4 linked regions of the Homo sapiens genome follow. The protein of the gene in region 2 binds, or shares a complex with, the protein of the main gene of each other region. Each region holds a gene or a part of one and is shown on either strand. Other genes may lie near its edges.

Region 1 (5,435 bases), on a different chromosome or scaffold from region 2:
TCTGCTTATTTTTATTCCATCACCATTTACCCTTTTTTTTTTTTTAAATTTTGTAGCCATTCTTATGATGCTCTTGATTTGTTGGTTACACAAATCAATTTTATTAAAAATCCAAAGATAAGTCTTTAGGTATATTTTGTACCAAATTAAATTAGAAGACAAAAATTGTGCTTTCATAGTTGCTACAAAGGTAAATAATGGAGAGATTTGGTACAAAACAACAAAATATATATATATTCTCATATATATATATATAGCTGATAAAATTACCTGAGGAGTGTAATGCTTATTTTTTTGTGTATATCTTTGCAATCTATTTTATATATATTGACAAAAGAGACTGTGAAATACTTAGCCATGCAGAATATGTGACCAGACCAGAGCATGTGTAGGAAGACTTTACGGTAATCATTAACTCTACCCCGAAATGATGGACTACAAGTTATAATGTGTGTTACCTACACTTCAATCAGTAATATTAGCAAATCTCCAAATGTTAGTCACATTGGTTTGTCTCCCTTGTACATTCTTTATTCATGATATTACAGTGCTGTAACTGGGTGGTCCTTTTTAAACAAAACATTATTTGCAAAACAGAGGGTATTATTTGTTTTTAAAGCTTTTGTAAATAAAGGCTTCAAAATGTTTTCTTATAAATGTTGATGACTGGTGATTTTCTTTTGGAAATACTTATTTGGGGGATATTGTTCATTTTTATTTGGGCAACTCAACAGAATTCAGTAACTTCCTTCATTAACCCTAGATGATTATTAGTCCATTAATTGAAAAATCAGTCTGAGTTTTCTGCATTTCAAGTGTTGGCTTATTCTTGTTCTTTATGAGTACCTCAACTAGCTAATTAAGGACTGACTTCTGTTTCTCCTTTCCAGGAATGCATTTATTCCGAAGGATATACTTCACAAAGTAAATACATTTGGTATAACTGTGGCTTTTTAAAAAATCTAACACAATGTAGTAAGTTTCTAACTGGCTTCTTTTGTCTTCGTTAAAAAGGAAGTGAAGCTTCTTTTCGCTTGTGATTTGTTAGCTGAGAAAACTAATATTTAAATTCTGTTCAACTATTTGAGAAATCAATGCTGGATTTCAAATAGGAATGATAAAGATTGCCTTTTTATTAGCCACATAGTTGCTCAATCTCATAACTTGTATCATTTCTGGCTTCTGTCCCTAAAAAGTATAGATAATCCCTAACTTACTTTCGACTTAATGATTTTTCAACTTTACAGTGGGTGTATTGAGAGGTAACCCCATCAAAAGTTTAGGAGCGCCTTAGGACCAAAGATGGGGTTATAGTTTCTACTGAATGTGTATTGCTTTTGCACCATTGCAAAGTCAAAATTTATAACTTGAACCATCGTAAATTGGGGGACTGTATGCTGTTGCCTGCATTAAATGCATCTTAGTATTTTTTCAGATGTAACCTCATTGTAGGTTGAGCAACCGTATAGTGTAACTTTTGTAGAGGAACATTTTGACTTTTACTGGGTCTAAGTTTTACTTTTTTATTTTGTTCCAGACAGTCTCAATGTTTGTAAAGTCTAGGTTCCAGATGTAAGATATTTGGCTGATATTTTAGTGTTACTGAGCCATTAATTAATTACAGGCTCATATATTCTGTTAAATCTACTAGAGCAAGGGTTGTCAAACTATGGCCCGTAGCCAGAATCAGCTTGCTGCCTGTTTTTGTGTGGCCCATGAACTGAAAATGGCTTTTAAATGGTTGGGAAAAATAATCAAAAGATTATTTCCTGACATCTGAAAATTACATGAAATTCAAATTTTAGTGTCTATAAGTTTTTATTGGAATGCAGCCACACTAATTTACATATTATCTATGGATACTTTTTTGCTATAATGGGAAAGTTGAGTAGCTGCTACAGAACCTGTGTATGTGTGTCTTGTTTCACATTGCCGCTTGGCAAGCTACAGAATCATGGTGATGCAGATATTACCTGAAAGCATTTGGAATGCCCTGTGTATTGCTAGATTTATTACTTTTTCTGCTACCAGTTCATGCCCTGTATCTCAGAACAAGAAAAGTACCTTTGAATGTTACACTTTCAAGGCACATTGGAATATGGACTATTTTATTATATGCTGGTACATTGTGTTTATAATGCAGTGTCACCATAACTGGTAAAAGAATAGACTGACAGTATCAGACTAACATCACAATATTCCCAACTGGTGGGAAAGCAACAGTCAGAAGAATTAGAAAATTTAAATGAAACATCACAGCAAAATTTCACAAAAGTAATAAAAATGAGGCTGCAACCAAAATGTTTACAAGTAGCCTATTTGTTAGCCAAGCAAAGAAAACCATTTACTAATGCTGAATTACATCGTGCTTGAAGATAGTAACCAACCCAAAGACATGTGTCCAGAGAAAATTAAGACATCAGCCCTTTGATGAGAACAGTAGTTTGAAGAATGAGGATTTTGGACACAACATCAAATGACACTGTTAATTCTTTGCCTCTTACTAGTCAGTACTGCCTAGCTTTATTTTTTGAGAAACCATTGCTGGATTTGAAGTGATCGAAGAATTTGTATGGAACTACAAGTGGGAATATTTTCAAAAAAGTTGATAAACAGTACAACCTGAAGTGGAATCTACTAAGATGTGATGCAACCGATGCTGGGAAAAATGCATGAAGCAGAAAAAAAGTTTATTTGGTCAAATTTTAAGGCTTGTGAAAACGTAAGTTGTTTAAAGCCTGTAGTTACTCACTTGATTATTCATCAGCAGGTACTTCACAGGAAATATTGGTGTTACTGAACTGGTCAACAGTTAACTTCATTTGCTCTTGTGGACTTAACCATCTTCAGTTCCATGATTTTTTTTTTTTTGTGAGAAACAGAAGCTGAATATCCTGATTTGATTTGCCACACAGGCGTTCAATGGCTTAGCAGTGCTAAAGATTTATTTTTATTTTTTTGGGCTCTGGGCTGACATTGAAATTTTTCTGAATGAGAAAAACCATCCTCAACCACTGTTTTTTAACACTGAGTAACTTTGGAAATTAACTTTTGCCACAGACTTGAAAATGTTTCTTAATGAATTTGACCTGAAATTACAAGGTACAACAACATAATATGGTAAATTCATTTCAATAAAAACTAAAACTTAAGATTGTCAAGCTGCTTTATATACTTTCTGTGCTATGAGAAGTCAAAACAGCGCTGTATTGCCAAATCCATTTTTAGTGGATATATTTTCCTGTAGCAGTTTTTTGGACCTTGATGCAGTGCAAAGAAAATTTTTAAATTTTAAAAGCATTTAACTGCAATTAAATGCTTTTAAAGTTTCCTCTTAATCTTCTGTTGGAAATGAATCATCTTGAATGAATGACATGCTAAAGGGCAAATACCAAAAAGATGAATCCTACAAATGCCTTACAAGTGATGAATATGCTTAACTAAAATCACATGCTCATGGGTGGATGTGTCAGTATTTAGCAGTACCTTGACCTGTTTGTGTGAAAAGACATTTTCAAAGATGAAATACGTGAAATCCCATTACACATCAGCATTAACAGATTAACATTTTCTATTTATTCCAATGAGGGGATACCAACTTTCAGCCCAAATTGAGCAAAATGTTACCTCCCGTCCCCTGCCAAAAAATCCCATTATTCCCATTAGTAGAACTCTATTACTAAAAAAAGAAAAAAAAATTGTACTCAATATTTTGAGTTTTCAATTTTTAGAATAAAAATTTGGTGAAAAGTTTCCTTGAGTACCTAAATAATGTCCTTCATTTTGTCTTAGCTTGCAAAGCCTCTAATATTTGCTACCTGCCCTTTTCAAAAAAAAAAAAAAAAAAAAAAAAAAGGCTTGTCCACCTCTCTACTAGAAGAAACTCAAGGGTCTATGTCTGTCCTGTTTGCTATTTCATCTGCATTGCCAAATGCAGTGGCTCCTCTGGGTAGGCAACCTGAGGTGGAATCAAATTATGAATGCATATGTTATCTCATGTCTATAAAATAAATGTGTTAGAATTTATAAATAAAGGGATAGGAAAAATGCTGATTATTCTGTGTGTCGGTGCTTTGTAGTGAAGGCCAGTTCACACATGCCATTTGCTATGTTGGTGTAATTTATATGAGAGTTTCTTTTATAACAACGTTACCTGTCATTTATTTTTCTATTAAGACATTATAGAAACGTAGGACTGTACACATCCAAATCCTGCAGAATTTTCATTTCAGGTTTTGAAAGTTAAAAAAATGTCACCATAGAATGAAAATTCCAAGAAAACAAGATTCATGTACATTATCACTAGACAATTTCCATTTGTTTTAAACAGTTTTCTACAGCATTAGTTACATTTAACGTTTAGTATAAAAGCAATTGAGCAATTTCTCTTTAGAAGTCCATTTCATTGCTTTGTAGCCATAGTCTGTAGGTGAATGAACAAGCTACATTTCTCCAGAATTACTCATTTTCTTTTTAAAGATAAACTGGTCAATACTCTCCTTCCTGGTATGGAGGAATTTTTTGTATATGAGAAGCATTCATGAATATAATCTGCCCTCTTGCTTTATTGTCATAGGAGGGGAAATTCACTGCTTTCACACCCTTCTGTTTTGGCTCTTTCTCCCAAAAGATAAGAATCTTTATTTAGTATCATACCAAGAAATTGGAGTTCCTTTAGCTTCAGACTATCATCATGGCTTCCAAATTGTTAGGAAATACAAGTTTGCAAGACCCCAAGGGGACTTAATATTTTACATCTTACTAGCCATGTCATAGGTTTTAAGTGCTTTTAATGGGGAACTGTTTCACTCATGCCATATACCTGTTTTGTTTTTCTAAAAAATTAATACTGTAAGTTGTGAGCAGGTGTCTTGTATCACTGCGAAACCCATGCATAATAAAAACTTGTTCTTGAGCTATATGTGTGTATACAGACTTTCCTTCCATTCATTGTAGCCATTCTGGGGCTGTCCTCTACTTCTTGCCTAAGTATATGTTTTTTAAATAACTTTAGCACATTTGCATGCTACTCCAAGATGAGTTTATAATTAAGGTTGCTTTTTAAAGTATTCAGCTTTCACACAATAAGTGTTTGATTAGTTCATTTAAGATGTTTTCAATTAGGGAGCCATACATACTGACAGAAAAAGACACAAAATCTAAACTGACAAAATAGCCTTGCTCTCATAACTGAGAAAAATACAACAGGAGAACTGACGCATTCTGTAGTATCTTTTTAAATTCAGAATCAACGGAATTTTACCTTGAAGCATTATGCGTTTTTTTTTCAATTGATTAAGCACCTTTATCAATCAAACAGAAGCAATATATTAAGCATTAATAATTTCAGGTAGGATTCAGCTCCTTGTACTGTTAAACCTTCCCCGGAAGATGCAACATAAATCATAGGTTTTCATAAACCATAAAGTAGTACT
Region 2 (7,000 bases):
AATGCATGCCAAGTTGTTTGTTGCATGTCTATCCTATGCATACCTAAAGATACAGGCTGGGCGCAGTGGCTCACACCTGCAATCCCAGCATTTTGGGAGGCCGAGGCAGGTGGATAACTTGAGGTCAGGAGTTCTAGAGCAGCCTGGCCAACATGGTGAAACCCCATCTCTACTAAAAATAAAAAATTAGCCGAGTGTAGTGGCATGCATCTGTAGTCCCAGCTACTTGGGAGGCTGAGTCAGGAGAATTGCTGAGGCAGAAGTTGCAGGAGCCGAGATCGAACCACTGCACTCCAGCCTGGGTGACAGAGTGAGATTCTGTCTCAAAAAGGAAAAAAAAAAAATACAGATTCTCATTTTACTGAAATGAGTCTTTTTGTAGCAGCTCATTATCTTTTTGTTTTATACCTGTTAAATCTTCTTATTGCTATCATTTCCTTTTCCATTTTAAAGTTTTTCTTATAAACTCCTAATTTACTTTAATTCAAAGAAAACACTTGTAGAATTTGAAATAATATAGCTGCATTTTTTGGGGATTTCTTTAAGAGATGGAATCTTGCTATGATGCCCAGGCTGGACTCAATCCCTTGAGGCTCAGGGGATCCTCCTACCTCAGACTCCCACATAGTTGGAATTACAGGCATGCACCACTCTACCTGGCATCTGTTTTATAGGCTTCTGTGTGCTTTGAATTATGAAGGCAAGCTTTCTGCTTTGGGATGAGAACATGTTTACCAGATGATAGTGTAGTATCACCATGAGTTTGAAGTTCACACAGTGACTTTTGTACCATTTGGTTTACAGTAGATCTTTGACATACATAGGTTTAATATTTGAAGTTTCTGCTGGTCACAAGTGTGACTGAAATGTCCATGGCATGTAATGGCTTCTTTTAAATATTTGCTCGGGCAGAACTCTAAATTGCATAGGTCACCAGGAAGATATATGAAAAGCAGATCACTCATAATAAGTGGGTCTAGCCAAACACCAGGTGTCCCCACCTCGCAAGAACTCTCTATCACATAAGTAGTATTTCTCATAAATTGTTAAAAACTTTATTTTTGTAAGTGGTTGAAGGGAGATTCAGATGCTAGTCCTGGTGAGGTAAGTGAAGAGGCAGTGGAGATGTTTAAGATAAAGTGATGATTTTTAACTAAAAAATATTTTCTGTAAACTCAACAGTAGACTCTCAAATTTGGCAGGGCTAGGATCCATGACAGGAATAAGCCACTCCTGCCCTATGTGGAAACTATGTGAGATGTGAAATTGGTTCAGCAGAAGTCCTAGCCAGCATTTATTTCAGTGGGTTTGTAACTCAGGGATGAATCTTGTTTTATAAAATAGTTGAGTTGAACCACTTCATTTTCCTTTTGTACTTCTATTGTTTTCTGAAAATGAATATAGTATTTGTGAATTTAGGGATTCGTGACGGTTTCCACATTCGTTTCGAAATATCAAAAGGCAACCATACTTTTCCTCCTGCTGCTTCATCGCCACGTAATTTGTTACTTCAGTTATAAGATGCAAAGATAAAACTAGTACAAATCATAGTGGCAGCTGAACAAATAGTGGTAACTAAGAATAGGATGTGTGAGGGCATAGTATTTCATTTTTTCATCAAAAGACTTCACCCGTTTAGGAGTCGTGCCCTTTTGCTGTTGAGTGGCCATGCTCAAGTGCAGCATGGGCAGATCACGGCCAGGCTTTCCTCACTTCTGCAAAGCGAATAGATTGTTCTCTGGCATCATGCTGGCATAGTGTTCTTTCATTGTCTTGTTTGCATTCTGACTGAAACCCTGACTTCCTGTGTCATTCCTGCTTCTGATTTTGAAGTATGAGAGTTCTAGTCACATCATCCTTATTAAGAGATTTCTTTGCATACTTTATTAAGTGAAATGTGTGAGATGTGTAGAGATGTTAGCTTCCTGATAGGAGCAACTATCACGGCTCTCATTACAGGCCATTTTCGACCAGAGTTTATTCGTCCACCGCCTCCACTCCACATTTGTGAGGATGAACTTGCTTGGCTAAACCCCACGGAGCCTGACCACGCGATCCAGTGGGATAAATCGATGTGTGTTAAGAATAGCACTGGTGTGGAGATCAAACGAATAATGGCCAAAGCCTTCAAAAGCCCCTTATCCTCTCCCCAACAAACACAGGTGTGTATTGATTGTAAGCATTTTCTTATCTTTTTTTTTAAATTTATTTTTAATTAAAAAAATTTGTTTTTGAGACAGAGTCTCACTCGGCTGCCCAGGGTGGAGTGCAGTGGCACGATCTCGGCTCACTGCAGCCTCTGCCTCCCGGGTTCAAGTGATACTCGTGCCTCAGCGCCCCCAGCAGCTGAGACTACAGGCATGCACCACCATGCCCGGCTAATTTTTGTATTTTTATGAGATGGGGTTTTGCCATTGTTGGCCAGGCTGGTCTGGTGGCTTCAAGTGATCTGCCAACCTTGGCCTTCCAAAGTGCTGGGATTACAGGTGTGAGCCACTGTACCCAGCCATTGTGAGCATTTTCTTATCTTTAATCCAACAAGAGTTTATTTTTTTTTTGGAAAGTGGTAAGCAATAAACTAATCCTGTCACTGTGAGTGAGCAGTAGGAAGTTGCAAAGGTTTTTGGGTCTCTGAAGCTTTGTTCTACTCTTTGGTAATTTTGCTGTGGTGGGGCAAGAAGTCTGATGGCAAAAATGTTCTAACTTTTCTTTGTGATGTTTGTCCCTGGGAGAGGTGGGGTAGTGGGGGTGTCACTGCTGTGTACAGTGGGACACTACACAATGGTTACGTTTGAGCTGATGGTAACGCTTCTGATGGAAAGTGGAGTTACTGACAGGCTGTAGGGAGGAAAACAAGGCTGGGAAGGGGAACCCGCCCCCATCACACAGCTGGATCGTGGTGTATTTGAGATTAAAGTAGCCCCCACTGCCCGAGTGTGAGACTGGATGACTCTCCTCAGGAAAGGCAAGGCCACTCTTCTATTGGTTGGTGAATTTTATCCAGTTTGCACACTTTTGAGTTAGAACTTTTTAGGAGATGACCTCTCCTATCACGTTTGCCACCAAAAATATCATTTTCAAAACGAAATAATAGCAACGTTTGTAGTTCGCTTTGCTCGCAAGACCATCCTGAAAACACAGTCCACTGTGGAACATATTAAGTAGACGGGGGAAAAAAAGCATAGGACATTTAAAGAGGAAGTGCTTACTTCATAGAAAAAGTCCTTTGAGGATACCTGTTTGAATTACAAAGTGTGGGTGTGACTTGAACTGTAAAGTTCTGCAGACTGATGACTCGCAGCAGGTCAGCTGTCCGGATTCCCGCTCCGGCTTCCCACTCCGCCCCCTTCTCAGGTATTTCTGGTCTCCACCTGGGTGGGGTGGGGCAGGACTGTTTCTTGGGAGAACTAGTTGGTCATTAAGATTATTTTTAGTTACAACAGATGACAGAAAAAAAAAACCTGCAAAGGACTTGACATTGTTACAACCAGACAGTATTTTATCTGACCAGACAGTGTGGAGTCTGGTTTGATGCCCAGGAATAGGAATCACTAGCATATTTATAAACTGTCTTAGATGTGTTTGCATTTTAGTTTGTTCAAAATTAAAATGTAAATTTAGAAATGTCAAGACATCATGGGTTTGAAGGAAGAAATTTATGAAGTTGGTTCAATGCAGATAGTTTTGTAGCTTTTTGTATAAAATGCTTATTTCATATACATGGGAAAAAAAATTGACTCAACACCCTTTCTCTCTCCCTCTCTCTCTCTTTAAAAATCTGGTGTATTTAGCTACTTGGTGAGTTGGAAAAAGACCCCAAACTTGTCTACCATATTGGCCTCACCCCAGCCAAACTTCCTGACCTTGTGGAAAACAACCCTTTAGTCGCTATAGAAATGTTGCTGAAATTAATGCAGTCAAGCCAGATCACTGAGTATTTCTCTGTCCTGGTCAATATGGACATGTCTTTACATTCAATGGAAGTTGTAAATCGGTAAGTTTCTAGATTTGATCAAATGTGTGGGGATAGATACAGATTAGATGGCCAGGAAAGAAAAATTGTAACAGATTTTTGTCTTGATATTATTGGCGTAAGATTAACTATTAAAGAAATAATGTAAGCCTTAGCATTCACTACATGTAAATTTAGCATGCGTTAATAAGAACTGAGGGTAGGATTTCAAACATATTTAGTGTTAGTAGAAGCATAAATGAAATTTAATTGCTGAAATTTATTTTATTTATTTATTTTTTTGAGAGGGAGTCTCACTCTGTTGCCCAGGCTAGAGTGCAGTGGCGTGATCTCAGCTCACTGCAACCTCCACCCGCTGGGTTCAAGCAATTCTCCTGCCTTAGCCGCCCTAGTAGCTGGCATTACAGGTGTGTGCTACCACACCCGACTAATTTTTGTATTTTTAGTAGAGACGGGGTTTCGCCATGTTGGTCAGGCGGGTCTCGAACTTCTGACCTCAAGTGATCTGCCCACCTCAGCCTCCCAAGTGCAAGGATTACAGGCATGAGCCAGTGTGCCAGCCAATTGCTGAAATTTATTTCCCTATACATAGTCCTGTCTTCTTTATCCCTATACAAATATAGATACTATTTTTTCTTAGTGACTAACAGCTGTAAGTGTGGAAAAATATGGACCTTAAGAGCTGAGAATCCTAGGAATGCTGTCCTAGCTTCCTCGTGCTCTTCTCCCAGCCTTTCTGACCCCCAGGCTCCTGACCCTGCCATCCTTGACTGTCAGGAAAACAGAACATCTTCCCTTCTTGATGTGTGCTGTACAGTGTTTGCATTTTAGAGTATTTTCCTTACAAATATCTTTTAGGTAAATTGTGAATTAGATGGGCTGGAGGGCTTAAGTTGTTTATGTGCAGGGTGGCCAGAGGTTCAGGTGTGCCTGAGAGTCCTGGTGGAGGCTTTGCATCCTGAGCTCCCTTTCACGTGGTATCCTGTTTTGGATGATAAATTATATGGTCCTCCTGTATGGGGAAATCCATTCTGAGTGCCAAGCAACTAAACTTCAGTACTGGAGAGCATAGTTTTTGAACACCTGTTTGTAAGTTGGGGCTTTTTGAAAAAATCTATGTGAAATTGAACTACAGAATGTGTCCTTTTTTCATCAACTATTGGGGGAAAAAAAGCCCAGCTGGAAGCTGAGGGAGTGGAAGTACGTGCATAGAAGGAGAGTGCGTTCTTTTAGCGGTAGCAGAGGGAGGAAATGTGAGGTTTCCAAATTAATTTTTAACTTTAACCGTGGTCACTGGCAAAACCGGCTAGCTGCTTGTTGAAAACGTGCTGCTGCACATCTCCCCCCTCTTTGTTCCAGTCTTTCCCCTACTGAGTGAAGACTCACTCTTTTCAGTGGCCCAGTTCTGTGCAGGTCCTCCGGATTGACCACGCTGAGTGTTCACTTCCCTTTCACCATATTCTTATAGCAGTTCTTGTCTCTACCAGACATTTGGCCCTGAGTCCAAGATGCAGAATCACTTACATCTTTTTATCAATGTGATTCTATCTGCTCAGTATCTTGGAATTCAAGGACAAGGTCCTGTTTGTTTTCCCCCGATACCTATCATAGTGCATCATCCTTAAACGTGAAACACGTTTTTTGGCGACGCACAAATCTCAAGAGACTGCAGCAGCTCATGACAGTGTCCTTGGAGCACTACATCCTCATGCCTTATTGAAAAAAGTTTTGAGGTCTGTTAAGTTTAGAAAAGGCAGCATATATTAATCTTCTTTTGGAAATTCATACTTTGAGTACGGAATTCCTGTTCCCACCCCACTCGTTTTTCTCATTAAAACATTCCATGTAATCCTTTGGAAAATACTGGCTTTGGCCTTTATTATGACTCTAAATTCCAATAACAGACCATGACTTAGGATTTAACCAAGAATACTCAGGGACAGGGCTCAAAAAAATAATTGCGATATGTAAATGTAAGTAGAGACATTTTAAACAGTGTTATTTATGAGTAAGTAGGTATGGCTCTTAGGTTAATTTGCCCAAGTATATTTAAAACTAGGGAATTGGATATGTCAGAAAATTCCACCAGATGACCAAAGCAAATTTTGTATTTTATGGTTAACAGTGTTTCTCAATGTTAGCAAATGAAATTAATGGGCCAAATTTTCTTTTACGAAACAGACTAACTACAGCTGTTGATCTACCTCCTGAATTTATTCACCTTTATATATCAAATTGCATCTCTACTTGTGAACAGATTAAGGATAAATATATGCAGGTAATATAAATTTTTGTAAATTTTATAAATGGCTGCCAGGAAAATGAGCAGACTAACATTTTTTTTTTTCCTTTTTCAGAATCGGTTGGTGCGTCTTGTGTGTGTGTTTCTCCAATCCTTGATCCGTAACAAAATTATTAATGTACAGGATTTGTTTATAGAAGTGCAGGCATTCTGTATTGAATTCAGTAGGATACGAGAAGCTGCTGGTCTTTTCCGGTTGTTGAAGACATTGGATACTGGGGAAACACCTTCTGAGACCAAAATGTCAAAATAATACCTCATCAGAACCATCCCATCCATTCACTGTTCAGCTGTACTGTGATTTAGTTTTTACACCGTTAAAACCCTGAGTGGATTGCTTGGTTTAATGCATATAAACAGTACTTTATCTACTTAAAGCAAAGTTTTGCTTTCTTGAATGACTTTTTCTGTGAGATGAATTTTTGATAAGAACTAGGGAAAACATGTCTTTTAGGTGTCTTGCTGATGACTATCCATAGGAGGAATGGCTATCCCAAAAAAAGTTCCGCAAAAAAGTAGATGAGTTTCTTTTTTTTTTAAGCACTAAAGAACAAAATGCATTTTTCATTAATACAGGCTTCTGATGAACCAGGAATCCTGTTTTCGTAAAGTTCCAATGTTGATGAGAGTAAATTCTTAAGCATTTGTCCTAGAGGTGAAAGCAGCTGAATGTTTCTGAACCATCAAGAGGCAAACAAACAGGAGTTTGTTTCTTGAACCTGCTT
Region 3 (6,928 bases), on a different chromosome or scaffold from region 2:
GCGGTGGCGTGATCTTGGCTTACTGCAACCTCTACCTCCCGGGTTCAAGCAATTCTCCTGCCTCGGCCTCCCGAGTAGCTGGGATTACAGGCGTGTGCCACCACACCCAGCTAATCCAGGGGTTTCACCATGTTGGCCAGCATGGTCTCGATCTTCTGACCTCGTGATCTGCCCGCCTTGGCCTCCCAAAGTGCTGGGATTACAGGCGTGAGCCACCGCGCCTGGCCTTCTCAATTTTCTTAAACTTATACTCTCCTGCTGGGCGTGGTGGCTCAGGCCTGTAATCCCAGCACTTTGGGAGGCCAAGGCGGGCAGATCACCTGAGGTCAGCAGTTCGAGACCAGCCTGACCAACATGGAGAAACTGTCTCTATTAAAAATACAAAATCAGTCGGGTGTGGTGGTGCATGCCCGTAATCCCAGCTACTCGGAGGCTGAGGCAGGAGAATCGCTTGAACCCAGGAGGCAGAGGTTGCGGTGAGCCGAGATCGCGATATTGCACTCCAGCCTGGGCAACAAGAGCGATACTCCGTCTCAAAAAAAATGAAAAATAACAACAACAACAACAACAAAAAACAAAAACGTATACCCTCCCAAATGAGATTTGTTCGAACCTGACTTTCTATAGTTTGCAGCTCAAAAACAATAGGGGCCAGGAGCAGCGGCATGCACCTGTAATCCCAGGCACTCAGGAGGCTGAGTGAGGAGGATTACTTGAGGCTGGGTGCCCAGGGATTCAAGACCAGCCTGGATAACGTGGCAAGACCCTCATCTCAAAAAGCAATAGAGTTTTCTTCTCAAATATGAAATGATGTAACTGAATATATTCTTTTCCAACTACCCTCTCATTCATTAGGGGCTTCCTTCCGACTGGGAAGCAGTGACTTCTGGAAAATTATTCTAATTTTGCGATATCCATGAGTACAGCATCATATCCAATGTTCAAAACGTTAACACTCTAGGCCGGGTGCGGTGGCTCAGGCCTGTAATCCCAGCACTTTGGGATGCCAAGGCGGGAGGATGACGAGGTCAGGAGATCGAGAACATCCTGGCCAACACATTGAAACCCTTTCTCTACTAAAAGAAAATACAAAAAATTAGCCAGGCGTGATGGCTGGCGCCTGTAGTCCCAGGTACTAGGGAGGCTGAGGCAGGAGAAAGGCGTGAACTCGGGAGCCGGAGCTTGCAGTGAGCCAAGATTGCGCCACTGCACTCCAGCCTGGGCGACAGAGCGAGACTCTGTCTCAAAAAAAAAAAAAAAAAAAAGAGTAACACTCTAACTTCTCCTAAAATAAAATCCATCTGTTTGCTTTATATCTATTTTCAATAATTTGAGAAACGAACACCCAATTCTGGGTGAGGGGTGGTAGTGAGGCTGGACATGGTGTTTCCTGTTTGTTTTAGCACACACCAGGCCCAGTGCCACAGGAAAAAACAAAATTCCAAGAAAGGATTGGGGAGGCCGCTTTTCATGTGACTACTGCCTGCCTGTCAGCGCTAGCCTCTTCTGACTCTAAATTACAAGTGGAAGAAAGCACGTTAGAAACCCACAGAACTGGCCCGGCGCGGTGGTTCAGGTCTGTAATCCCAGCACTTTGGGAGGCCGAGGCAGGCGGACCACGAGGTCAGGAGATCGAGACCATCCTGGCTAACAGGGTGAAACCCCGTCTCTACTAAAAAAAGAGAAAAAAATTAGCCGGGCATGGTGGCGGGCGCCTGTAGTCCCAGCTGCTCGGGAGGCTGAGGCAGGAGAATGGCGTGAACCCGGGAGGCGGAGCTTGCAGTGAGCCGAGATCGCGCCACTGCACTCCAGGCTGGGTGACAGAGCGAGACTCAGTCTCAAAAAAAAAAAAAAAAAAAAAAAAAAAAGAAACCCATAGAACTGACTGGGGGATGGGGCACTTGCCTGCCTTCTTTATCAGTGTATCCCTCAACGGAATCACTGTTTATTTTTTTATTTTTTGAGAGGGAGTCTTGCTGTGTCGCCCAGGCTGGAGTGCAGTGGCACGATCTAGGCTCACTGTAACCTCCGCCTCCTGGATTCAAGCAATTCTCCCTGCCTCAGCCTCCGGAGTAGCTGGGATTACAGGTGCCCTCCACCACGCCCAGCTAATTTTTGTATTATTTAGTAGAGACAGGGTTTTGCCATGTTGGCCAGGCTGGTGTTGAACTCCTGACCTCAGGTGATCCGCCTGCCTTGGCCTCCCCAAGTGCTGGGATTACAGGCTCAGTGAGCCACCAATCCCGGCCCCAAATCGACTGTTTTAGGGAGAGCAAACTGAGACATGCCATTTATTGAACGCTCTTTTATATCTTCCTCGGTGCGGGGTGTTTTTCCAATTATTAACTATTTAATCTTCACAAGCTCACGACAGCCATTCGTAACCTAATTTTGCAGATAAGGAGCTAGACACTCATTTGGGGGGGAGAAGAGGAGGACTGGAGTTCAGAAAGTGCATTTGATGCTCTTATCCTGGAGGCTGGAGCTAGTTCACCTCCCTGGAGAACAGCTTTTGGGAATCCCGTTTGAAATTGCCGCTCAAGGCCAGCTCGGCATCCAGCCTAGGAATTGGAGGATTTTGGAGAATCCCCTTAGGGGGAAATGTTTAAAAGTGCAAAGTGAATAGTAGAAGCCCCTCTCCTCGTCACTAGGGGTACATTTGCCGTTTTCTTATCAACAGCCTCTCAAGTACAAGCATCTGGGACAAGAACTAGAACCGTGCTTGGGGCAGCCCCCACGTCCTCTCGGGAACAGGGGTGGAGCGCTGGCGGGAGTGGCTGAGGGCGGCCCGCCGCCGACACTGTGTGCAGGAAGCGGGCGCTTTGTCTGCTCTCCCACCGCGGAGAACACGAGGCGGAGGCGCGCCCCAGCTGGCCACACGCTGCCCAGGGCCGGCGTCGGTCAAGAGCCCTCTCTTCAAGCAGGATTAAGAGGGAACCAAGGGGCTGGCAGAGGGGCCTCAGAAGCTCCTGGGCGAGGCCTGAGCCCGTGGGTCTCGACACTAAAATCTGGCGAGCTCCCTGCGCGTCCGCAAAGATTTTGGAGCTCTGAAGAGCCCGGCGACGCCTGCGCTGGCCAGGCGCCGTGCCCACGGGAGGCGCCGTCCTCTTTGTAACTCGAGCAGACCCTGGCGGGCCAGTTGCTATGGCAATGTTCCTCGCTCTGCTCGGTGAGGCCGGGAGGTAGGCGGGCCTTGGCGGACGTCACCCACATTCGGCTTTGGGGAGCCGCCCCACCCCCAACTAATTGTTTGCCAGAAAGGAACCGTAGGATAGATGCTTTGTGAGACATCTACGGGGCCATGTTAGAACAGAAAGTCGCGACAGCCTCTTTCTCCGTCAGCCTCTTCACAAATCCCTTCGTGCCAACGATTTTAACGGTCCTTCAAAGCCAGGAGGAGGGGGCGTGGTAATTCGAGGGGTTTGTTCGAAGGGCCACGCCCTTTCCTCGGCCTTTGGATTTTTCCAGGCCGCGCCCACGGCGGGGGGGTGGGGGGGGGCGCTAGTTCTAGACCACGCCCCTTCCTTGTTCGCTCGGAAAGAGGACCAAAATGGAGGAGTAAGAATCATGATTAAATTGAGCGAGCGCAACTAATCACGCGAAGAGGGCCGCAGGCGGGCCGTCTTCCGCAAGCGTGCTTCCAGGCCTCCACTCCCCACCTATTCGGCGGCACCCTGTTACTTCTGCTCCTGCGCGCTGCTTCCCGCGACCTCACAGGCAGAGCGAACACGCACGGAGTCGCAGGGGCGCGCAAAGGGGGAGGAGCGGGCGTGACCAGGCGCGCGCGCGCGTCTGGAGTGACTCTAGAGAGCAGGCGAGTCGGGCGGATCGGGTGGGTAGAGTGGTGCCGTCCGGTTGTTTGGTGGGAGGCACGTAAGACCGCTCTGGGCACGGGGGCGCTCACCTCACTGGCTCGTTCGGTTCTAGGAGCAGATCCGGGGTAGAGGGAAAAGAGCTCCGGGCCAGGGGCTGCCGTCGCCGCCGTCGGGGAGTCAGCCCGCCAGCCCGCCAGCTCGTCAGCCCGCCAGCCAGCGCTTCGCGGGCCCTGTCGGTCCCGGTAAGCGGGCCTGCGCTTACCGGAAAGAGGAGCGTAAGATGAAAGAGTGTGAGAGACCATTGGGGGTCTGTAGGGGGAAGGGGAGTGGGGGCGTGTGTAAGGGGCAGGGTGTGTGAGGAGGAGAGGAACCCCAGCAAAGAGTAGTAATAATAATGGCCACCGTCACACGATAATATTCGAGTAATATGTGCGGGGACTTTACAAAGCATCTCATATGCTTCATTTTAACTTCTACTCCAATCCTCCGAGGTGCGTACTGTTATCAAACCCATTTTACAAGATAGGAAAACCGAGGCACGAAATAGATTAAGTGGCTTATGCAAGGACACACGACTACTACGTGGCCTGGCCTGGCTTCGAACTTAGTTATCTTAGTCCTAAGGCCCGTAATTTTAACTTTGCTTTACCAAACAAAAACAGAAGAAGAATGGCGTGTCAGAAGGAGGAGGACTGAGTGTGATTTGAAGTGGAAGGATGATGATAAACGAGAAGAGAATGATGATGGGAGACGGAGTAGTGGGGAGGAGGACCTGAATTTGGAATCTTGCGGGCCTCCCCCTTCTAAATCGCCGCCTCTTCCTTAGTTCTTGCGGCCCCATAACTTTTTCTTGGTGTTCTATGGCTTTATGAATGGAGGAGCCAACTCACAGACCTGGGCCATTCGGGTGGTTTTAAGAAGTTTGAACTGCGGTTCAATCCAGGGCAGTGCCTTGAGACACTGTTTGGAGGTAAGGGAGGGTCAGAGGATCCTCTTAAACGCTGCTGCTATTTATTTCTTCAAACGTGCCACTTCCTTTTCTATCATATCTATGCACGGCAAAGCCTTTGTTCAGTCCTCTAGAATAAGGAAGTGATGTTTATTGTTTCCTTGTACACTTGGGCTTAAACGAACAAAATCAGACTCAACGTTTCTTTTCCCGAGCAAGGCCTTGATTGCTTGCAGAGAAAACTTTCCTGTGGCTTTATCATTAGTTGCCCTTCAGAGCTTTCCTGTGTAAATAAGAAGCTATGTTTTGGAGAAGTTTACACCGTAGATGAACGGGAGCGATCTGAACATACTGCACTGCAGGTCAACACAGAGCAGGGACTTCAGTAATTCATAGGTGTGAGTGTGTTTGTGAAAACCTTTCCTTCTTGCACAGTTTTCTGTGTAGCTCATGTGGGAGTCAAGTTTTTAAGTCAGCCCGTGAGGCAAACATTGTATGTAATAAAAATTAACCCTTAAAAATTCCTAGGAAGGTGCAACGCTTGAGATTAGCATCCTGTTTCTGACTACATCCTGGACGGTTTTTCCTTCAGTTTTGAAACTTGTTACTGTTGCTTTGGTTGTAACCCAGATAAGTAATTAGATTACCTTTAGGGGCTGTGTTGTGCAAATAAGCATATTTGAAAGCCATAGAGTTGTGATGCGCTGTGAGATGCTTGCCCTGAGGAGGCTTAAAAGGAGGAAGACAAACCCCTATCTTAGGCTCATTTTGGAGCATGTGCTTACAAAGTGGAAAGTGGCAGGCAGAATTGCTGGTATGATGATGATGATGATGATGATTTTTTTGAGACGTGCTCTTGCTCAGTCGCTGAGGCTGGAATGCAGTGGCGTAATCACAGCTCACTGCTGCAGCCTTGACTTCCTGGGGCTCAAGTGATCCTCCCAGCTCAGTCTCCTGAGTAGCTGGGACTGCAGGCACACACTACCATGCCTGGCTAAGTTTTTGTACTTTTTGTAGAGACGGGGTCTCACTTTGTTGCCCAGGCTGGTCTCGAACTCCTGGCTCAAGTGATTCTGCAGTCTCAGCCTCTCAAAAGTGCTGGGATTACAGGTGTGAGCCACTGCCCTTATCCTGCTGGTATTTAAGTTGCTATTTTATTTTATTTTTTGGCCAGCATATGCAGTAATTTGACTTGCTAAATTAAATGTGCATAGTGCGATTCCTCTTTAATTTTTGAGTGGCACTACATTCAGGGGCTTGCAAGCTATTGTTTACTTCCCCACAGATCCTAGCTAACTTTGGAGCAAAAATGGCTTACATATTTTTGCCAACTGTCTGGCTTCGGCAGTCCCCATATATATGCCAGATATGTATAACAGTGGTTAGCTTTTTAAAAACCAATTCTCTTTTAAATGGAAGTTAAAGGCGTCTTTTGGTTGTGTGGGGTTTTTTGTTGTTGTTGCTTTTGCTTTTACGGAAACATCTCTCAAAAACTCAGGAGTGATACACCCACTTCCTCCAAAGTAGTTATGGTTATGTTTGAAATGACACCAAAAATGAAGGGTATTATTTCAGTTAGGGAAATAAGGAAGTACCACCGATTTAACATTATATGGGTATAGAAAATGGTTTTAAGGCCTTTTGCAGGGGAGAAATCTTAAGCAAGTTTAGGAATCTAAAATTCTGAGTCGAAACATTTTCTGAATTATGGTCAGATAGTGTAATTTACTCCACATTCATTCTGAACTTCTCTCTTTTCCTGATCTTTATTGTTCTTTTGCAAGCCTGTAATAGAACAAAAACAAGAGAAGAAATTTATTCTGGCTTTAAGAAGTTTCTACTATGTTTTTTGGGGGAGATGCCACATAGTCTACTTAAGTTTAATTACTGTAATTACAGAGAAAAATCTGTGGAAGTATAGGATACCTTGAATAAATGGAATCTTCAAGGTTTGCTGGCAAACCAACAGTTTGATTTCTCAGAAGTTTCTTAGAGAAATGATGCCAGTTTTGTTTTGCTCCAGATTCTCATTGTTGCATCTGCCAATCTTGAAAATAGGAAGCAAAGATTTTCCTTGCTCTGTCCCTTGGGAACCACTTACATTCGTTTTACTGTTTCTAGGAAATTTTCTTTAAATATATACATTAGAGCCCACTATTGTGTT
Region 4 (7,043 bases), about 120 Mb from region 2:
GACACAAGGTCTCACTTTTTGTTGCCCAGGCTTGTCTCAAACTTCTGGGCTCAAGTGGTTCTCCCACCTTGGCCTCCCAAAGTGCTGGGATTACAGATGTGAGCCACTGCACCTAGCTGAAATTTTTTTAAACTGCCATTTATAACAGCACCGAAATGTGAAAATTTGGGTATAAATCTTTAAAAATATATGCATGATCTATAACTAAAAACTACAAAACTGATTTCTAATGAAATAAAATGCAGAGATAAACCATGTTCATTGATTGGTGTATCAATGATTCAGTATTGTTAAGTTGTTCATTCTCCCCAAACTGATCTATAGATTCAGAGTAATTCCAACAAAATCCCAGCAGCACTTTTTTTAGAAATTGGCAGGCTGACTGCTATGGACTGAATTGTGTCCTCCCCAAAATTTCATGCTTTGAAACCCTACCCCCTCATGTCATGGTATTTGGAGATGGGACCTTTGAAAGATAATTAGGTTTAGATGAGGACATGGCCCTCATGAGGTTAGTATTCTTCTAAGAAGAGACACCAAAGAGCTTGTGCTCCCTCATTCGCTCTCTGCCATGTGAGGACATAGTGAGAAGCTGGCCATCTACAAGCCAGGAAGAGAGACTTTACAAGAACTATACCATACCATGCTGGCACCCTGATCTCAGCTTTTTTTTTTTTTTTTGTGAGACAGATTCTTGCTCTGTTGCCCAGGCTAGAGTGCAGTGGCATAATTTTGGCTCACTGCACCCTCCGCCTCCTGGGTTCTAGCAATTCTTCTGCCTCAGCATCCCGAGTAGCTGGGACTACAGGTGCGTGCCACCACACCCGGCTAATTTTTGTATTTTTAATAGAGACAGGGTTTCACGATGTTGGCCAGGCTGGTCTTGGAACTCCTGACCTCAGGTGATCCAGCTGCCTCAGCCTCCCAAAGTGCTGTGATTACAGGTGTGAGCCACTGTGCCCAGCCTGATCTCAGACTTTCAGCTGCTAGAACTATGAGACAATAAATTTCAGTTGTTTAAGCCACCAGTCTATGGTATTTTGTTATGGCAGCCTTCTAATAGACTGATCCTAAGATTTATATGGAAAGCCAAAGGAACTAGAATATCCAAACATTTCTTTAAAAGAACAAAGTTGGAAGACATATACTACCTGAGTTCCACACCTACTGGAAAAATATAGTAGTCAAGGCAGTGTAATACTGGAGAAAAGAAAGATTTACAGACCATTGGAGCAGAATGAAGAGTCCAGAAATAGACCCACACATATATGGTCAGTTGATTTTTGACAAAGGTACAAAGACAATTTAGTGCAGAAAGCTTTTTTTTTTAGAGAGAGTCTGTCACCCAGACTAGAGTGCAGTGGTGCAATCTCAGCTCACTGTAACCTGTACAGGTTCAATTGATTCTCCTGCCTCAGCTTCCCGAGTAGCTGGGATTACAGGAGCCTGCCACCATGCCTTGCTAATTTTTGTATTTTTAGTAGAGACGGGGTTTCACCATGTTGGCCAGGCTGATCTTGAACTCCCGACCTCAAGTGATCTGCCCGCCTCGGCCTCCCAAAGTGCTGGGATTACAGGTGTGAGCTACTGCGCCGCCCTCTTCCTTTTTTTTTTTAATACGAGTGTGAATCTGATTCCTTTAACAAACCCCAGTTTGTGTTCTGTTATTTAAGTTCACAACTCACTGGATAAACAGTTCGAAGTTAATGTTAACTGGAAACCCTAACTGTAAAATAATTTTGTTTGTCCTTATTTTCTTTAGGGGCCCTGGTGAAAACAGATGAACAAGAAGTAATCAACTTTTTATTAACAACAGAAATTATCCCTTTATGTTTGCGAATTATGGAATCTGGAAGTGAACTTTCTAAAACAGTATGTACTTTTAACTTAGATTTTACATTGTGTTGACTCTTAAGCTGCTTCCTTATGGTCCTGGGATCATTTTCTCTCTTCAAGCTTTTGAAATTTGTATGAATATTTTCTGTTTTGAATAAAAATTATTATGAAACAATTATTGAAAAACCCAAACCATTCAGAAGAAAATCAAGTTAAACACTAAATTTCTTTTCTCCAAACCCACATCTCACTCCACAGGTAAATTCTAAGTATATTATTACGGTTTCATTTTTTTAATTTTAAAATTTCAATCCTGCTCCTTCTATAACCGGGCTTTTTTAAAATACATAATCAATTATATGTACTTGAGCTTCTGCTTACTATGTACTTTAACCATGAATGACAACATGACAAGGTACAGAATTCTTACTCATTGTACAGAATTCTTACCTCATTGTTCTGTCTCAGACCTCCATTGCCATAGTCCTTTTGTCTTCTAACATTGAATATTGCAGAGAAGTCTCAGGGTCAGCCTAATTCTTTCCTTTTTTAGGTGAACTTACTTTTTTGTGTGGTTACCTACAAGTGTCTTTTATTATTTTTAAAGTTCATTTGATAATCATATATCTTTTTTTTTTTTTTTCTCTGAGATGGAGTCTTGCTGTGTCACCCAGGCTGGAGTGCAGTGGTGTAATCTCAGCTCATTGCAACCTCCGCCTCCCGGGTTCAAGCAGTTCTCCTGCCTCAGCCTCCCAAGTAGCTGGGACTACAGGCATGTGCCACCATACCCAGCTAATATTTGTATTTTTAGTAGAAATGGGGTTTCACTATATTAACCAGGCTGGTGTTGAACCCCTGACCTCAGGTGATCCGTCCGCCTCAGCCTCCCAAAGTGCTGGGTTTACAGTCATGAGCCACTCCACCCGGCCTTTTTTTTTTTTTTTTTTTTTTTTTTGAGATGGAGTGATGTAATCTCAGCTCGCTGCAACCTCCACCTATCAGGTTCAAGCAATTCTTCTGCCTCAGCCTCCCACGTAGCTGGGACTACAGGCACACACCACCACTCCTGGCTAATTTTTTTTTTTTTGTATTTTTAGTAGAGATTGGGTTTTGTCATGTTGGACAGGCTGGTCTTGAACTCCTGACCTCAGATGATCCGCCCACCTTGGCCTCCCAAAGTGCTGGGATTACAGGCGTGAGCCACCTCACCCAGCCTCAATTTTTTTCTGAAAGAGCATATTACTTGTGTCTTTTTTGTTGATTTGTATATTTTTCTCTTTTATTCGTTCAAGTCTCTTGGTTCAACATCAGTTATGCTCTATTATCTGTCTTTCATATTTTTTTCTCTAATCACTTTCAATTTTTAAATTTCATATTATTTGATTTTTTTCAAGGTTACTTTTCCATACTGCTGACAATTTTGGGTAGTATTCAACCTCTGCTCTAAAATTTGCCTTGTCACATTAAATTACTTTTTTAGTCTAACAAATATTTTATTCTTGAGTTGGGTGTAAGCAGGTATAATGATTTTTTTGGCTTTTTACTTTTAAATATATATATATGGAATGCTTCATGAATTTGTGTATTATCTTCGCACAGGGGCCACACTAATCTTCTCTGTGTTGTTCCAATTTTAGTACATGTGCTGTCTAAGTGAGCACTGGTTTTTTAATTTTTAATTAAATTATTTATTTATTTAGAGACAGGATCTCTGTCTGTCACCCAGGCTGGAGTAGAGAGGCATGGCTCACTGCCGCCTCGACCTCCTAGGTTCAGTTGATCCTCCCACCTCAGCTTCACAAGTAGCTGGGACCACATGCCTGCTCCACCACACTCAGCTAATTATTTTTATTTTTTGTAAAGACAAGGTCTCCCTATGTTGCCTGGGCTACTCTTGAACTCCTGGGCTCAAAGGATCTTCCTGCCTTCTGCCGTAGTACTAGGAGTACAAGCATGAGCCACTGTGCCTGACCAATTTATTGTTTTTAAAGAGACAAGGTTTCACTATGTTGCCCAGGCTGGAATGCAGTGGCTATTCACAGCCATGATAATGGCACACTATAGCCTTGAACTCCGGGGCTCAAGCAGTCTTCCCACTTCCCTCTCTGGAGTAGGTAGCTTTGATACTGGCACACATCCCTATACCTGGCTATTTTTAAGCTTTTTATTTTAAATATTCAATATATGGATGACTGTCAAAGGCATTGTTGAGCAAAAGAAGCCAGACACATGGGAATTCATACTGTATGTTGATTATGTGAAGTTTAAGAACAAGCAAAGCCAATTACTGGCAATAAGTTGGATTCGTGGTTAGCTCTGAGGAAAGAACATTGACTGGGGAAAGGTACAAGGGAATGCTGGAATCCTGAGTTGGTAGAAATATTGCTTTTTTCTGTTTTTTTTTTTGTTGTTGTTGTTTTTTGTTTTTGAGACAGTCTCACTCTGTCACCCAGGCTGGAGTGAAGTGGAGTGATCTCGGCTCATTGCAACCTCTGCCTCCTGGGTTCAAGCAATTCTCATGCCTCAGCCTCCTGAGTAGTTGGAACTACAGGCACACACCATCATACCCAGCTAATTTTTTGTATTTTTAGTAGAGATGGAGTTTCGCCATGTAGCCCATGCTAGTCTTGAACTCCTAAGCTCAGGCAATCTGCCTGCCTCCACCTCCCAAATATTCTGTATTTTATACAATATTTTGTATTTTAATCTGGTTATAGTACATAATGTGTACATAGGTAAAAATTCAAGGTACACTTAAGATTAGTGCACTTAACACACTTCACTGTGTGTAAGTTTATATTAGGTTCCTATATAACCTGCTGCTATAACAAATTACCACAAGCTAGAAGGGTAGTGGCTTAAAACAATGGAAGTTTACTGTTTTATAGTTTTGGAAGTCACAAGTTCTAAATGAGTTTCACCAATCTAAAGTCAATGTATCAGGAGGGTCATGCTTTCTCTGGAGGATATAGAGGAGAGTCTTTTTGTTGCCTTTTCTAGCTTCTAGAACTGCATTTCTTGCATTCCCTGGATTATGGCCCCCTCCCTCTTCAGATCCAGCGATGTGGCATGTTCAAATCTCTTTCTGCTTGTCACATTGCTTTCTCCTTTGTGGTAAAATCTCTCCCTACATCTCTCTTGTTGTTGTTGTTGTTGTTGTTGTTTTGTTTGTTTGTTTGTTTTAAGAGATGGGGTTTTCTCTGTCGCCCAGGCTGGAGTGCAGTGGCATGATCATAACTCACTGCATCCTTGAACTCCTGGCCTCAAGCAGTCCTCCCACCTTGGCCTCCCAGAGTGCTGAGATTACCAGCATGGGTCACTTTGCCTGGCCTTCTCTACATCGCTTTTAAGGACACTTCGTTATTACATTTAAGGCCTACTTGGATAAACAGGGATAATCCCCCATCTCAAGATCCTTAACTTAATCACGTCTGCAAAGTCCCATTTTTCATTTAAGGTAACATTTGCAGAGTTTGGTGATTAGGGCCTGGATATCTTTGAGAGCCATTATTCAGCCTACTACAGTGTTATAACCCCAATAAAATAGTAAAATAATTCCACAGTTCATTTTGATGAGCAGCCAAGAAAGAGTATCATTATCGTGATTGTCTAATTTAAATTAAACTAATATTTTAATATCTCTTTTATGTAAGAGCTAATGAGCTCAAGTTGAGGGAAAAATTGAGGCCACATATAAGCTTCACAGCCAGGATATGTTTTATTACTGTTAGATAATCTTCAAAGAGAAGCGTGAAAATCTTATTTCTTCAAGATCTTTTAAGAACAAAAAAGGCCTTATCTCAGCCGAGTGCAGTGGCTCACGCTTGTAATCCCAGCACTTTGGTAGGCCAAGGCAGGTGGATCACGAGGTCAGGGAATTCAAGCCCAGCCTAGCCAAGACGGTGAAACCCCGTCTCTACTAAAAATACCAAAATTAGCCAGGCATGGTGGCAGGAGCCTGTAATCCTAGCTACTCGGGAGGCTGAGGCAGGAGAATCAGTTGAACCAGGGTGGCAGAGGTTGCAGTGAGCTGAAATGGAGCCACTGCACTCCAGTCTGGGCGACAGAGTGAGACTCCATCTAAAAAAAAAAAAAGAAAAGAAAAAAGAAAGAAAGGCCTTACTTCATCTGGAAGAGAGGAGGCATAGCTGAATAAATCATCTTGGCCTATGGAAAAGAGAAGAGCCTTAGATATTCAAATGAGGCTTGGATCTCAGCTGTGCCATAGTAACTTTGTCACTTGGGACCTTAACCTGGTGCATTATTGATTAACAGTTATACCGGGCACATAGTAGGTACTCTGTAAATGAGAAGGTCTCTGAGTTTTTAAGAATTTGATAATTACACGGAACCTACCCTTGTATGTAAAGTGAGAATAATAATGGTACCTACCTCATTGATTTATTATAAAAATAAGATAAGCATGTAAAGCCTCTAGAAAAAAAAACTGGTACAAAGTAATGTTCAACATGGTAATATTTATTATTCTTTGTACTATACATATATGATAAAGTTGTACATAATATACAAGGATCCCTGCTTGCTCAATTTTCTGACTGATAGTCATGCCTGGGAAAATGAGTAGAAAATGAGAAGATTAAATCTGAGCAACTTTATAAACTCTTCGATTTTGTTTTGCTTCAGGTTGCCACATTCATCCTCCAGAAGATCTTGTTAGATGACACTGGTTTGGCTTATATATGTCAGACGTATGAGCGTTTCTCCCATGTTGCCATGATCTTGGTGAGTTCTTTCATCTATCCCCTTTACAACTACTTCTCATCACAAAGCTTAATCTCTTTATAACTGGCATTGAACAACTTCAGTCCTCTGACTAGAACTAACAATTTTGGAACCTTTTATGATTCTTGGACTATCTGATCTCTGATGTCAATTAGAATTTGTTTGTGTTTTGTGTGTTTTTTCCAACCCCTCCCCTTATTTTGGGGGAAACAGGGTAAGATGGTCCTGCAGCTATCCAAAGAGCCTTCTGCCCGTCTGCTGAAGCATGTAGTGAGATGTTACCTTCGACTTTCAGATAACCCCAGGTAAACATTTATAGGATGTATAGGACTTTAGGGAAATACTCTGCTGAACAGTTTCCTAATCTCATGGCATAGCTCCTGTGTCTTTAGGACAGGGAAGTGGGGATATAACTGCATTTAGTTTGTCTGAGACAGAACTTAGATTCTTTTAAAAATCTGAAA

What was found.
Region 1: CNOT11 (region 2) and CNOT7 share a complex: the UniProt entries of both Homo sapiens proteins name them as parts of the CCR4-NOT complex.
Region 3: CNOT11 (region 2) and CNOT8 share a complex: the UniProt entries of both Homo sapiens proteins name them as parts of the CCR4-NOT complex.
Region 4: CNOT11 (region 2) and CNOT9 share a complex: the UniProt entries of both Homo sapiens proteins name them as parts of the CCR4-NOT complex.

Annotation. Positions count from the first base shown.
Region 1 is NC_000008.11:17,224,450-17,229,884, reverse strand, and holds the end of CNOT7 (CCR4-NOT transcription complex subunit 7), read left to right. Parts: 3' UTR 1-4,919; downstream 4,920-5,435. UniProt on the Homo sapiens protein: Has 3'-5' poly(A) exoribonuclease activity for synthetic poly(A) RNA substrate. Its function seems to be partially redundant with that of CNOT8.
Region 2 is NC_000002.12:101,262,886-101,269,885, forward strand, and holds part of CNOT11 (CCR4-NOT transcription complex subunit 11), read left to right. Parts: intron 1-1,959; coding exon 1,960-2,162; intron 2,163-3,236; exon of another isoform or gene 3,237-3,791; coding exon 3,792-3,994; intron 3,995-6,154; coding exon 6,155-6,251; intron 6,252-6,330; coding exon 6,331-6,528; 3' UTR 6,529-7,000. UniProt on the Homo sapiens protein: Component of the CCR4-NOT complex which is one of the major cellular mRNA deadenylases and is linked to various cellular processes including bulk mRNA degradation, miRNA-mediated repression, translational repression during translational initiation and general transcription regulation.
Region 3 is NC_000005.10:154,854,712-154,861,639, forward strand, and holds the start of CNOT8 (CCR4-NOT transcription complex subunit 8), read left to right. Parts: upstream 1-3,915; 5' UTR 3,916-4,057; exon of another isoform or gene 4,058-6,928. UniProt on the Homo sapiens protein: Has 3'-5' poly(A) exoribonuclease activity for synthetic poly(A) RNA substrate. Its function seems to be partially redundant with that of CNOT7.
Region 4 is NC_000002.12:218,585,824-218,592,866, forward strand, and holds part of CNOT9 (CCR4-NOT transcription complex subunit 9), read left to right. Parts: intron 1-1,481; coding exon of another isoform or gene 1,482-1,577; intron 1,578-1,762; coding exon 1,763-1,872; intron 1,873-6,480; coding exon 6,481-6,579; intron 6,580-6,792; coding exon 6,793-6,884; intron 6,885-7,043. UniProt on the Homo sapiens protein: Component of the CCR4-NOT complex which is one of the major cellular mRNA deadenylases and is linked to various cellular processes including bulk mRNA degradation, miRNA-mediated repression, translational repression during translational initiation and general transcription regulation.